Regions from separate parts of the Homo sapiens genome. Here region 1 is reported to be linked to region 2. Evidence: microRNA targets listed by miRTarBase, many of them from high-throughput screens and not tested one by one. Region 2 holds a microRNA gene; the other region holds the end of a gene's coding sequence. Distances are from middle to middle.

What was found. The annotated mature microRNA hsa-miR-6807-5p reads GUGAGCCAGUGGAAUGGAGAGG and lies in region 2 at 4,157-4,178, shown strand. An mRNA with a match to its seed (bases 2 to 7 or 8) in the 3' UTR can be bound and repressed. Matches are read on the target gene's strand: a 7mer-m8 pairs with bases 2 to 8, a 7mer-A1 pairs with bases 2 to 7 and ends in A, and an 8mer does both.
Region 1: miRTarBase lists ZNF431 as a target of hsa-miR-6807-5p. Seed matches in the 3' UTR shown: 7mer-m8 at 2,555-2,561, 7mer-m8 at 4,012-4,018 and 7mer-m8 at 4,532-4,538.

What each region holds. Positions count from the first base shown.
Region 1 is chr19:21,183,458-21,188,720 of GRCh38, forward strand. It overlaps ZNF431 (zinc finger protein 431), which reads left to right. Exons shown (of 5, transcript NM_133473.4): 5 at 1-5,263. The coding sequence ends at 577. It also overlaps the pseudogene VN1R82P. Among named protein-coding and RNA genes, the nearest start is that of ZNF431, 44 kb to the left of the region's middle.
Region 2 is chr19:58,546,129-58,551,594 of GRCh38, forward strand. MIR6807 (microRNA 6807) reads left to right here and starts at 4,157; the gene lies at 4,157-4,248. TRIM28 (tripartite motif containing 28) reads left to right here. Exons shown (of 17, transcript NM_005762.3): 4 at 1,248-1,383; 5 at 1,469-1,585; 6 at 1,664-1,778; 7 at 1,906-2,052; 8 at 2,166-2,280; 9 at 2,358-2,464; 10 at 2,612-2,648; 11 at 2,734-2,782; 12 at 2,860-3,112; 13 at 3,203-3,522; 14 at 3,609-3,732; 15 at 3,821-3,907; 16 at 4,019-4,156; 17 at 4,249-4,587. The coding sequence ends at 4,425. CHMP2A (charged multivesicular body protein 2A) reads right to left here. Exons shown (of 6, transcript NM_014453.4): 6 at 5,438-5,466.

The sequences.
Region 1 (5,263 bases), 37 Mb from region 2:
AACCCTTACTAAACATAAAAGAATTCATACTGGAGAGAAACCCTACAAATGTGAAGTGTGTGGCAAAGCCTTTAATGAGTCCTCAAACCTTACTACACATAAGATGATTCATACTGGAGAGAAACCCTACAAATGTGAAGAATGTGGCAAAGCTTTTAACCGGTCCCCACAACTTACTGCACATAAGATAATTCATACTGGAGAGAAACCTTACAAATGTGAAGAATGTGGCAAAGCTTTTAGCCAGTCATCAATCCTTACTACACATAAGAGAATTCACACTGGAGAGAAACCCTACAAATGTGAAGAATGTGGCAAAGCTTTTAACCGATCCTCAAATCTTACTAAACATAAGATAATTCATACAGGAGAGAAATCTTACAAATGTGAAGAATGTGGTAAAGCCTTTAACCAATCCTCAACTCTTACTAAACATAGGAAAATTCATACTAGACAGAAACCCTACAACTGTGAAGAATGTGACAATACATTTAACCAGTCCTCAAACCTTATTAAACAAAATAATTCATACTGGAGAGAAACTCTACAAATGTCAAGAATGTGGGAAAGCCTTTAAGCAGTCCTCAACTCTTACTAAGCATTAAATATTGGCCGGGTGCGGTGGCTTATGCAAAATGGCTCCCAGCATTTTGGGAGGCTGAGGTGGGTGGATCACAAGGTCAAGAGATCGAGACCATCCTGGCCAACATGGTGAAACCCTGTCTCTACTAAAAATACAAAAATTATCTGGGTGTGGTGGCACGTGCCTGTATTCCCATCTACTCGGGAGGCTTAGGCAGGATAATCACTTGAACCTGGGAGGTGGAAGTTGCAGTGAGCCAAGATTGTACCACTGCACTCCAGTTTGGCAACAGAGTGAGACTCCGTCTCAAAAAAAATTTATACTGTACAAAAACCCCACAAGTGTGAAAAACATGGCAAAGCCTTTAAGAAGCCCTCAATTCTTAACAGACATAAGATAATTTATACTGGAGAGAAACTCTACAAATCAGAAAGATGTGACTACTTTTGACAACGCCTCAAACTTTTCTAACCATAAAAGTAATTATACTGGTGAGAAATCCTAGAAATCTGAAGAGTGAGATAAAGCCTTTAAATGGTTGTCACACTTCATTGTAGGTAAGATAATTCATACTGGAGAAAACGCCTACATGTGTGAACAATATGGCAAAACTTAATGCTCACACTTTATTGCTAGGAAAGCATTTATACTTGAGATAAATTATACAAATATAAAGACTGTGAAAAAGCCATCATTATCTGCTCACATTTTACTCAACACAGAGAGTTCCTGCTTAATAAAAGCATTATAAGTGCAATTACTGTCAAAAGATCTTTCAGAAAATATAAGCTTTTTTAGTGAAGAGTATTTATTTTGAAGTTGAACATCACAAATATAAAAAGGGTTGTAGTGCCTTTACTTGTATCACAGATCTTTTTGTAGACATTTTCTTCTAGAGGAAAACTCTGAAGCAGTTGATCAAACTTTGTTCAACATCAGGGAATTTATATTGAAAAATTGTGCAAATATAATAAATTTGGAAAAACAATTTTTCAAAAACTACAGCTTAGAAATCAACAGTTATACTAGAATATATTTTTTCCAGATGCAGTAAAAGTAAAATATTTAATCCATAATTAAGTCTATGCAAATATCAGAGAATTTATGGTAGAAATATATAAGGTACTGACACTTCAGATATACTAAATCAGAGTGCTAAGTATAGAAAATCTGAAACTAAAGTTGGTAGAAAAGTTATTTGTATAGAACTTTAAGAGGATCAGAAGGTTTTTTGCAGAGTTATAATTACATTCAAAGTATACTTTATTTCTTGAAAAATATTACAGATTTTTTGAAAATTGAATAATGTCATCATTCAACTCTGAAATTATTTCCTGTTGTTTCTTCATTCCTATTGGATTCACATGTGAAAGCATGGGGTTAATTGTTGCTACATCAAAGAGAGAGATTCTTTTGTTTGTTTGTTCGTTTGTTTTTTGAGACTGAGTTTCACTCTTTCGCCCAGGCTGGAGTGCATTGGCATGATCTCAGCTCACTACAACCTCTGCCTTCTGGTTTCAAGCAACTCTTCTGCCTCAGCATCCCAAGTAGCTGGGATAACAGGTGCCAGCCACCATGCCCAGCTAATTTGTGTATTTCTAGTAGAGATGGGGTTTCACCATATTGGCCAAGCTGGTCTTGAACTCCTGACCTCATGTGATCCGCCCGCCTCAGCCTCCCAAAGTGCTGGGATTACAGGCTTGAGCCACCACGCCCAGCCTGTAGCATATTTTAATAGGAGAATACAATATATAATAGTAGCAGGGTTAAGTAAGGCATCCATCATCTGTAGCATTTCTCCTTTGTTTTACAAACAATCCAATTCTACACTTTAAAAAAAAATTTTTAAATGTACAATTAAATTTTTATTTACCACAGTGTTATTTTTATCGTCATAATAAAAATTATATACGAGTATAAATGAAATTCATTTCTAAATTCTTAATAAATATTTTCTCATGCCAGGTGTGGTGGCTCACGTCTGTAATCCCAGCACTTTGACAGGCTGAGCGAGGGAGTGGATCTTGAGGTCAGCAGTTCGAGACCAGCATGGCCAATATGGAGAAATCCCGTCTCTACTAAAAATACAAAAATTAGCCAGGCGTGGTGGCATGTGCCTGTAATCCCAGCTACTCAGGAGGCTGAGGCAGGAGAATCGCTTGAACCTGGGAGGTGGAGGTTGCAATGAGCCAAGATCACCCCACTGCACTCCAGCCTGGGCAACAGAGCGAGACTCCATCTCAAAAAGTAAAATATATTTTCAAATTTTCTATATATTTTTCTTTGAACATGTGGCCTGTCTGCCTGCAAACATATACAGACTTTTAGTTTTGATTCATATAGAGTTAAATACATGTTAGTCTAAAGACAAATCTTAGGTGTAAGAAAATTATGGAGTTAAGTATGTGTGTGTGAGTATGAGTTTGTACATATTTTCAGAAGGAAAGAATGATACGGGAACAAAAATCATTTTAATATGGTGACTACTATAAAACTAAAAACCTAAAAAATGCTGAAAGCAAATGTATACTTTTTGGTTTGTATTGAATTTATTACTGTACAGTCTATGACTTAGAGTTCTGAATCTTCCCAAGCAAATTCTCTGTATATACTTGCCTGGTACTCATGCTAGACCCATACTTTTTTTGTTTCTTACATTTTTTTTGTTTTATATTTTATGAAGTATTCATTATGTGAGCTGGTCTGCGATTATAAGAATTTTTATGAAATTTAGTGCACACAAAATAATCTTTAGATGTAATTCCAAAAGTAGTGTATTAAGTTACATTTTATTTAGTTAGAGCACTCCATTTTGTTCTTTTAAGAGGAGAACAATATATAGGTTTTCTTTAGTGATTTGTTCCTTTCACTTTTTATAATTGACATAAGCATATTTATTGAGTCAATTTGTTCAGCTAAGTACTAGGGAGGCTTCATTAGTCATGAGGATGTTTTTATATATAAATGTAGCAAACATATATTACAGTTTTCACTGTGTAATAGATTATCCATAATAATTCATAAATATTCCTGCTGAAGTTAGTTTGTAACTTCAAGTCAAAGATGAAAAATATCAATGGTGAAGATTGATTGTTCATATAGAGAGGACATTTTTTTTCCAGACTGTAAAACTGAATCTTGTTGAATTTAAAGAGAAATTCTGGCAGAGGCAGATGAATCACCTGAGGTCAGGAGTTTGAGACCAGCCTGATGAATATGGTGAAACCCAGTCTCTACTAAAACTACAAAAATAGCCAGGCATGGTGGTGGGTGCCTGTAATCCCACTCGGGAGGCTGAGTCAGGAGAATTGCTTGAACCCGGAGGTGAAGATTGGAGTAAGCCAAGATTGTGCCGTTGCACTACAGCCTGGGCGACAGAGCGAGACTCCATATAAAAAAAAAAAAAAAAAAAAAAGAGCTGGGCGTGGTGGCTCACGCCTGTAATCCCAGCACTTTGGGAGGCCAAGGTGGGCGAATCACTTGAGGTCGGGAGTTTGAGACCAGGTGACCAACATGGAGAAACTCCATCTCTACTAAAAAATACAAAATTAGCCCGGTGTGGTGGCGCATGCCTGTAATCCCAGCTACTCGGGAGACTGAGGCAGGAGAATCGCTTGAACACGACAGGTGGAGGTTGCAGTGTGGCGAGATTGCACCATTGCACTCCAGTCTGGGCGACAAGAGGGAAACTCCATCTGAAAAAAAAGAGAAATTCTTTTATTTTCTACTTCTCTTCAGATTTGTCTTATGCATTTTCCAACTATGTATGCATCACAGCTATTCTTTTTCTGAGTTATAGCTACAGTTTTCTTACTGTTGTCTTCATGCCATTTCATTTCACATGGTACTTTGTAGATTTTGATGAGGAAGTTGGTATTTTTAGTGCACACAAAAATTGGTTTTAACTGTAGAGTTTGCTTATCAGAACAGTTAAAAGGCAGCCAGGTGTGGCTCACGCCTGTAATCCCAGCACTGAGATAGGCCAAGGAGGGTGGATCACTTGAGGTCAGGAGTTTGAGACCAGCCTGACCAACATGGTGAAACCCTGTGTCTACTAAAAATACAAATTTAGCCACGCGTGGTGACGCACGCCTGTAATCCCAGCTACTCGGAAGGCCGAGGGAGCAGAATCGCTTGAACCTGGGAGGTAGAGGTTGCGGTGAGCCGAGACTGGGCCACTGCACTTCAGCCTGGGCAACAAGAGCGAAATTCTGTCTAAAAAAAAAAAAAAAAGATAAAAGGTGCAATACTGTCCACAGGTAAGATAATTAAATTAGTCAGCTTTGTTTTTAAAAGAAAAATCTTACTAGATTCTTATACAAAGTGTGGCAAATATAAAACTTGCTTGAAAATACAGAAATTAAATTTTTAAGAGAGTTAATGGTAAGTAAACAATTTTAAAGTTAATTTTCTATGATATACTTACAGCACAACTTATATTTCCATGCAGAATCTTTTATTTTTAAGTGTGAGTGTTAAAGGTTACAAAATAATGAAATGACTTCAGTGGATTTAAAATTTTGAAAAATAATGTCTTTTCTATATTGATTTTACAATTTGGAGAAATTTTTCACTCATTTTTTATATATTTTTTAGTGGGAGAGGTTTAGTCTACAGTTTTTATTTTTAGTCACCAAACTGTAGCCAACTCTTGGGTCATTTTCTCTGAAAAACATTTGG
Region 2 (5,466 bases):
CAGGGAGGTACAAAGGGTTTGAGAAGGCTTATCAGGGAGTTGTCAGACCTGGTGGTGAAGGGCTCAGCATATGCAAACAGGGAAAGGCATGGTGTGAAGGGCTTTCTGGGTTTGTGGTTCCCTGGCACACATCTGGTATAAGATGCTGCTAGGGAAAGTAGACTGTGGGTCCATGGATTATAAGTGATGATGATTTTTGGAAGTGTTTTAGCTTTTGAGTTGGCAGAGACTTACCCAAAGTTTGGTTTGGCATTTCCAGCTTTTCACAGACACAGCTAGCTTTGGTTTGGAAGGAGCTTGAGAGTCTTTTGAGTCTAGCCAAGTTTTGGGGCCAGAATCCTCCCATGAGTGGCCTTTTGGTAGCCATACTGTGATTCTTCCCATCCCAGAGGACAGCATTGGTGGAAGATAGCGGGAAGGTGGTGGCTGTGGGGCCTGAGCAGCCAGGAGGGATACGCAGGGGCTGCAGGGTGTCCTACATTCCAGACGTCCCAGGCAAAGGTCAGGGTGCAGGAATGAGTGGCATTGGGGAAGTCAGTTTCCCCAATGAGCCCTGATGCTACATATTTTGGATTTGGTTGGTATGTGGGACCAGTGTGTTTGATCAGTTTTCTAATGGGGAGACAGGCTTTGGAGGTTATTAATGGGTTGGTCTTTGGGTGGGATTATGCTGAGCACCAAGATTCTGCTCTAGAGGGGGTGTGACCACCATTCTGAGGGTCCTGGTTTGACATTTCATCTCTCCCAGTATGAGAACCTCTACAAGGTTTCCTCTGGGCCCTTGGATTGTAAGAGACCCTGGTGTTCTCTTGTCAGGGAAGAGGGAGGAAGTTAACCATGAAAGGAGAAGAAAAGGAATCCAGGGTGGTGTGTAGGCAGAATTCTGAGTATGTCCACTTGGAGAAGTGTTCAGTAAAGGGAACAGTGTGGGGAAGGGTCAGCGGGGGTGGGGGGTGGGGTGGGGTGGTCCTCTTTTTCTAGACGCTGTTATCCTTACCCTTACATTGTTGTTATCTCTAGAAGCTAGAAGAAAGGGATGTGTTTCTCAGCTATGTTGGGGCAGAGGATTCTGGGAGCAAGGAGTTGGGCTTGCAGGCCTGTGTTCTTCCCTGGCCACACCCTCTACATCTTCCCAATAAATGGCCCAGTGTCACAGAACAGGCCGGAAATGAGGCCCCAACTCATTCTGCTTCCTGAGTTGGGGGTGGTGAAGGGCAAGGTCCAGCCTTATGATTCCCACTCCCCAGGGCCAGCCAAGTCTCGGGATGGTGAACGTACTGTCTATTGCAACGTACACAAGCATGAACCCCTTGTGCTGTTTTGTGAGAGCTGTGATACTCTCACCTGCCGAGACTGCCAGCTCAATGCCCACAAGGACCACCAGTGAGTCCCAAGGCATAGTGGTTGGGTGGGTGGGTGCCACCCCTTCCGTAGCTTAGTGCTCAGGAACACATCTGTCTGCTCTCAGGTACCAGTTCTTAGAGGATGCAGTGAGGAACCAGCGCAAGCTCCTGGCCTCACTGGTGAAGCGCCTTGGGGACAAACATGCAACATTGCAGAAGAGCACCAAGGAGGTTCGCAGCTCGTAAGTGTGGGTTCTGGGGCTGTGGGGGTGGCCCAGGGCAGCAAGACCCTACCTAGCCTGACCTGCTGTGTCCCCTAGAATCCGCCAGGTGTCTGACGTACAGAAGCGTGTGCAAGTGGATGTCAAGATGGCCATCCTGCAGATCATGAAGGAGCTGAATAAGCGGGGCCGTGTGCTGGTCAATGATGCCCAGGTAAGCCTTGTGCCGGTGAGAAGGGTCCCTGAGCCCCCTCTGCTGATTGATGATGCTGTCTGGGGTGAGGAGTGATCCTAGTATTCTTCTGCCTTCTCTGCTTACCTCATACACCTTCTATCTGCAGAAGGTGACTGAGGGGCAGCAGGAGCGCCTGGAGCGGCAGCACTGGACCATGACCAAGATCCAGAAGCACCAGGAGCACATTCTGCGCTTTGCCTCTTGGGCTCTGGAGAGTGACAACAACACAGCCCTTTTGCTTTCTAAGAAGTTGGTGTGTACTGGTGGGCTCCTGGCTGGTGGGTTCCAGGCAGGTGGTTCCCAATACCTCAAATCCCTATTTGTTGTTGGTGTGCTCATTCTTTCCTCCCTTTCACTCCCAACCAGATCTACTTCCAGCTGCACCGGGCCCTCAAGATGATTGTGGATCCCGTGGAGCCACATGGCGAGATGAAGTTTCAGTGGGACCTCAATGCCTGGACCAAGAGTGCCGAGGCCTTTGGTGGGTCCCCAGCTTTACCTCACTCTGTTATTACCCCACGTGCTGCACCTACTTACGTTTCTCTCTTCTTTTTGCAGGCAAGATTGTGGCAGAGCGTCCTGGCACTAACTCAACAGGCCCTGCACCCATGGCCCCTCCAAGAGCCCCAGGGCCCCTGAGCAAGCAGGGCTCTGGCAGCAGCCAGGTGAGCAGGAGAGAGGACCCAGGAAGGGGTGGGCAGGGAATGGGGTCCAGTAGCAGGAGAGAGGACCCAGGCAGGGGGGGTGGGCAGGGAATGGGGTCCAGTAGGGTTCCTGTCCCACTGAGGCAGAGGGTTCTGCTTTGTTCACAGCCCATGGAGGTGCAGGAAGGCTATGGCTTTGGGTCAGGTGAGTGGGTCTGCCTAGTGGGTGGGGAAGGGCCCCAGTGCTGTTTCTACCCCAACCTGCCAGTCTTCTTTCTCCATTTTCTAAGGAGATGATCCCTACTCAAGTGCAGAGCCCCATGTGTCAGGTGTGAAACGGTAAGTATGGCACCTCCCCTGGGGGTGAGGTGGATGGAGGGTGGGGGTGTACTCATGCCAGGTTGCTGCATCTACAGGTCCCGCTCAGGTGAGGGCGAGGTGAGCGGCCTTATGCGCAAGGTGCCACGAGTGAGCCTTGAACGCCTGGACCTGGACCTCACAGCTGACAGCCAGCCACCCGTCTTCAAGGTCTTCCCAGGCAGTACCACTGAGGACTACAACCTTATTGTTATTGAACGTGGCGCTGCCGCTGCAGCTACCGGCCAGCCAGGGACTGCGCCTGCAGGAACCCCTGGTGCCCCACCCCTGGCTGGCATGGCCATTGTCAAGGTAAGCCTGTCCCAAGGAACTATAGCTGTAGGATGAAGCCTGTAGTCCAGGTCTGGACCCTGTTGAACACCCCTCATCACCACCTTGCAGGAGGAGGAGACGGAGGCTGCCATTGGAGCCCCTCCTACTGCCACTGAGGGCCCTGAGACCAAACCTGTGCTTATGGCTCTTGCGGAGGGTCCTGGTGCTGAGGGTCCCCGCCTGGCCTCACCTAGTGGCAGCACCAGCTCAGGGCTGGAGGTGGTGGCTCCTGAGGGTACCTCAGCCCCAGGTGGTGGCCCGGGAACCCTGGATGACAGTGCCACCATTTGCCGTGTCTGCCAGAAGCCAGGCGATCTGGTTATGTGCAACCAGTGTGAGTTTTGTTTCCACCTGGACTGTCACCTGCCGGCCCTGCAGGATGTACCAGGGTGAGTGTGAGGCTGGTGGGGGTCAAGTCTGGGTGTTGGGCTGTCTGGACAGGATCATGTGCAGACCCTTATTTTCTTCACCCTAGGGAGGAGTGGAGCTGCTCACTCTGCCATGTGCTCCCTGACCTGAAGGAGGAGGATGGCAGCCTCAGCCTGGATGGTGCAGACAGCACTGGCGTGGTGGCCAAGCTCTCACCAGCCAACCAGCGGGTGAGGGCTGGGGTTACTTAGGTGGGGTTGCCCAGAGAGGCTTTATAGGTGCTGCCCAGAGCTGTGACATCCCTTACAATGTTTGTAGAAATGTGAGCGTGTACTGCTGGCCCTATTCTGTCACGAACCCTGCCGCCCCCTGCATCAGCTGGCTACCGACTCCACCTTCTCCCTGGTGAGTCCTAGGATGGGAAAGGGGAAGGGGGTGGTGGCTGCTGGGTCTCGCCCTCAACCTGTGCATGTATATGTGTGTCTTTGTGTGTGTATGTGTGATCTCTGCCTGCAGGACCAGCCCGGTGGCACCCTGGATCTGACCCTGATCCGTGCCCGCCTCCAGGAGAAGTTGTCACCTCCCTACAGCTCCCCACAGGAGTTTGCCCAGGATGTGGGCCGCATGTTCAAGCAATTCAACAAGTTAACTGAGGTGAGCCAGTGGAATGGAGAGGCTGTGGGCAGGGGGAGATGTGAAGGAAAGAACTAGGACCCATTCATCCACTGCATTCCTGCTTGGCCCAGGACAAGGCAGACGTGCAGTCCATCATCGGCCTGCAGCGCTTCTTCGAGACGCGCATGAACGAGGCCTTCGGTGACACCAAGTTCTCTGCTGTGCTGGTGGAGCCCCCGCCGATGAGCCTGCCTGGTGCTGGCCTGAGTTCCCAGGAGCTGTCTGGTGGCCCTGGTGATGGCCCCTGAGGCTGGAGCCCCCATGGCCAGCCCAGCCTGGCTCTGTTCTCTGTCCTGTCACCCCATCCCCACTCCCCTGGTGGCCTGACTCCCACTCCCTGGTGGCCCCATCCCCCAGTTCCTCACGATATGGTTTTTACTTCTGTGGATTTAATAAAAACTTCACCAGTTCCTCAGGCGTTGGCTGGTTGGGGGACTGTGGTCCTGGGGCCTGGTTTATTGACTGTATCTACTAGTCAGCCTTATCAAGCACTGGTGGCACAAGGGAGGGGGGTCTTGTCCCCCACCTATCGAAGCCCATGTGTATGGATGCCTAGGGAGTGGGGAAGACTGCCTCCTTGCCCTTTCTGGGTATGGGGAGGGTCACCCAGGGCAAAGGATGTACACACTAGAGGCTTGTTGGGTACCCTGTGGGATACTGGGTAGGTGTGACCTACATCCCTGTGTAGGCAGGGTTAGCCCCAGGTGTAGCACAGCCACTCTACTGAATGCTTCCTAAATTTTGGTGCTGTAGCTGTTTCTCATCTTCAGAAGGTCCCACAGTGAACTGAGACCTTCCAGATGTGGTTTTTTTCCCTGTCTCCCTTTGCTGAGTCCACTTAACATTATCATTCATCTCTGTGTTATGATTTAGTTACTCTACAGTCGAGCCTGTGTGAATCCCAAGGCCACCCCCTTGCCTCTATTGGTTGGTCTGGACTGTCCTTGAGTGTTGTCATTAAACCATCACTGGACCAAACAGTGTTGGACACTACAGCCTGGCAGATGAGGCCTGGACTCTCAAGATCCTACCAGGGTGTTTGGGCAGTCCAGTATCTTGGGAGAGGTGATGGAGAAGGGCCCACAGCTCACCTGAAGCTCCCAGCTCCTGAAAATCCCAGGTGGACTTTGCTTGTTCACCCCTGCCCCAAACCCCCACCCTTAGCTTAGTACCAAGTGCCTCTTGCCTTAGTGATGCCCATCCTCCCAGGGACCCCAGTCTGGTCCCACATCAGGCCAAAAGTCACATGGGCCTGGAGACTAGTGTCAAATCTCTTTTATTACAGAGGG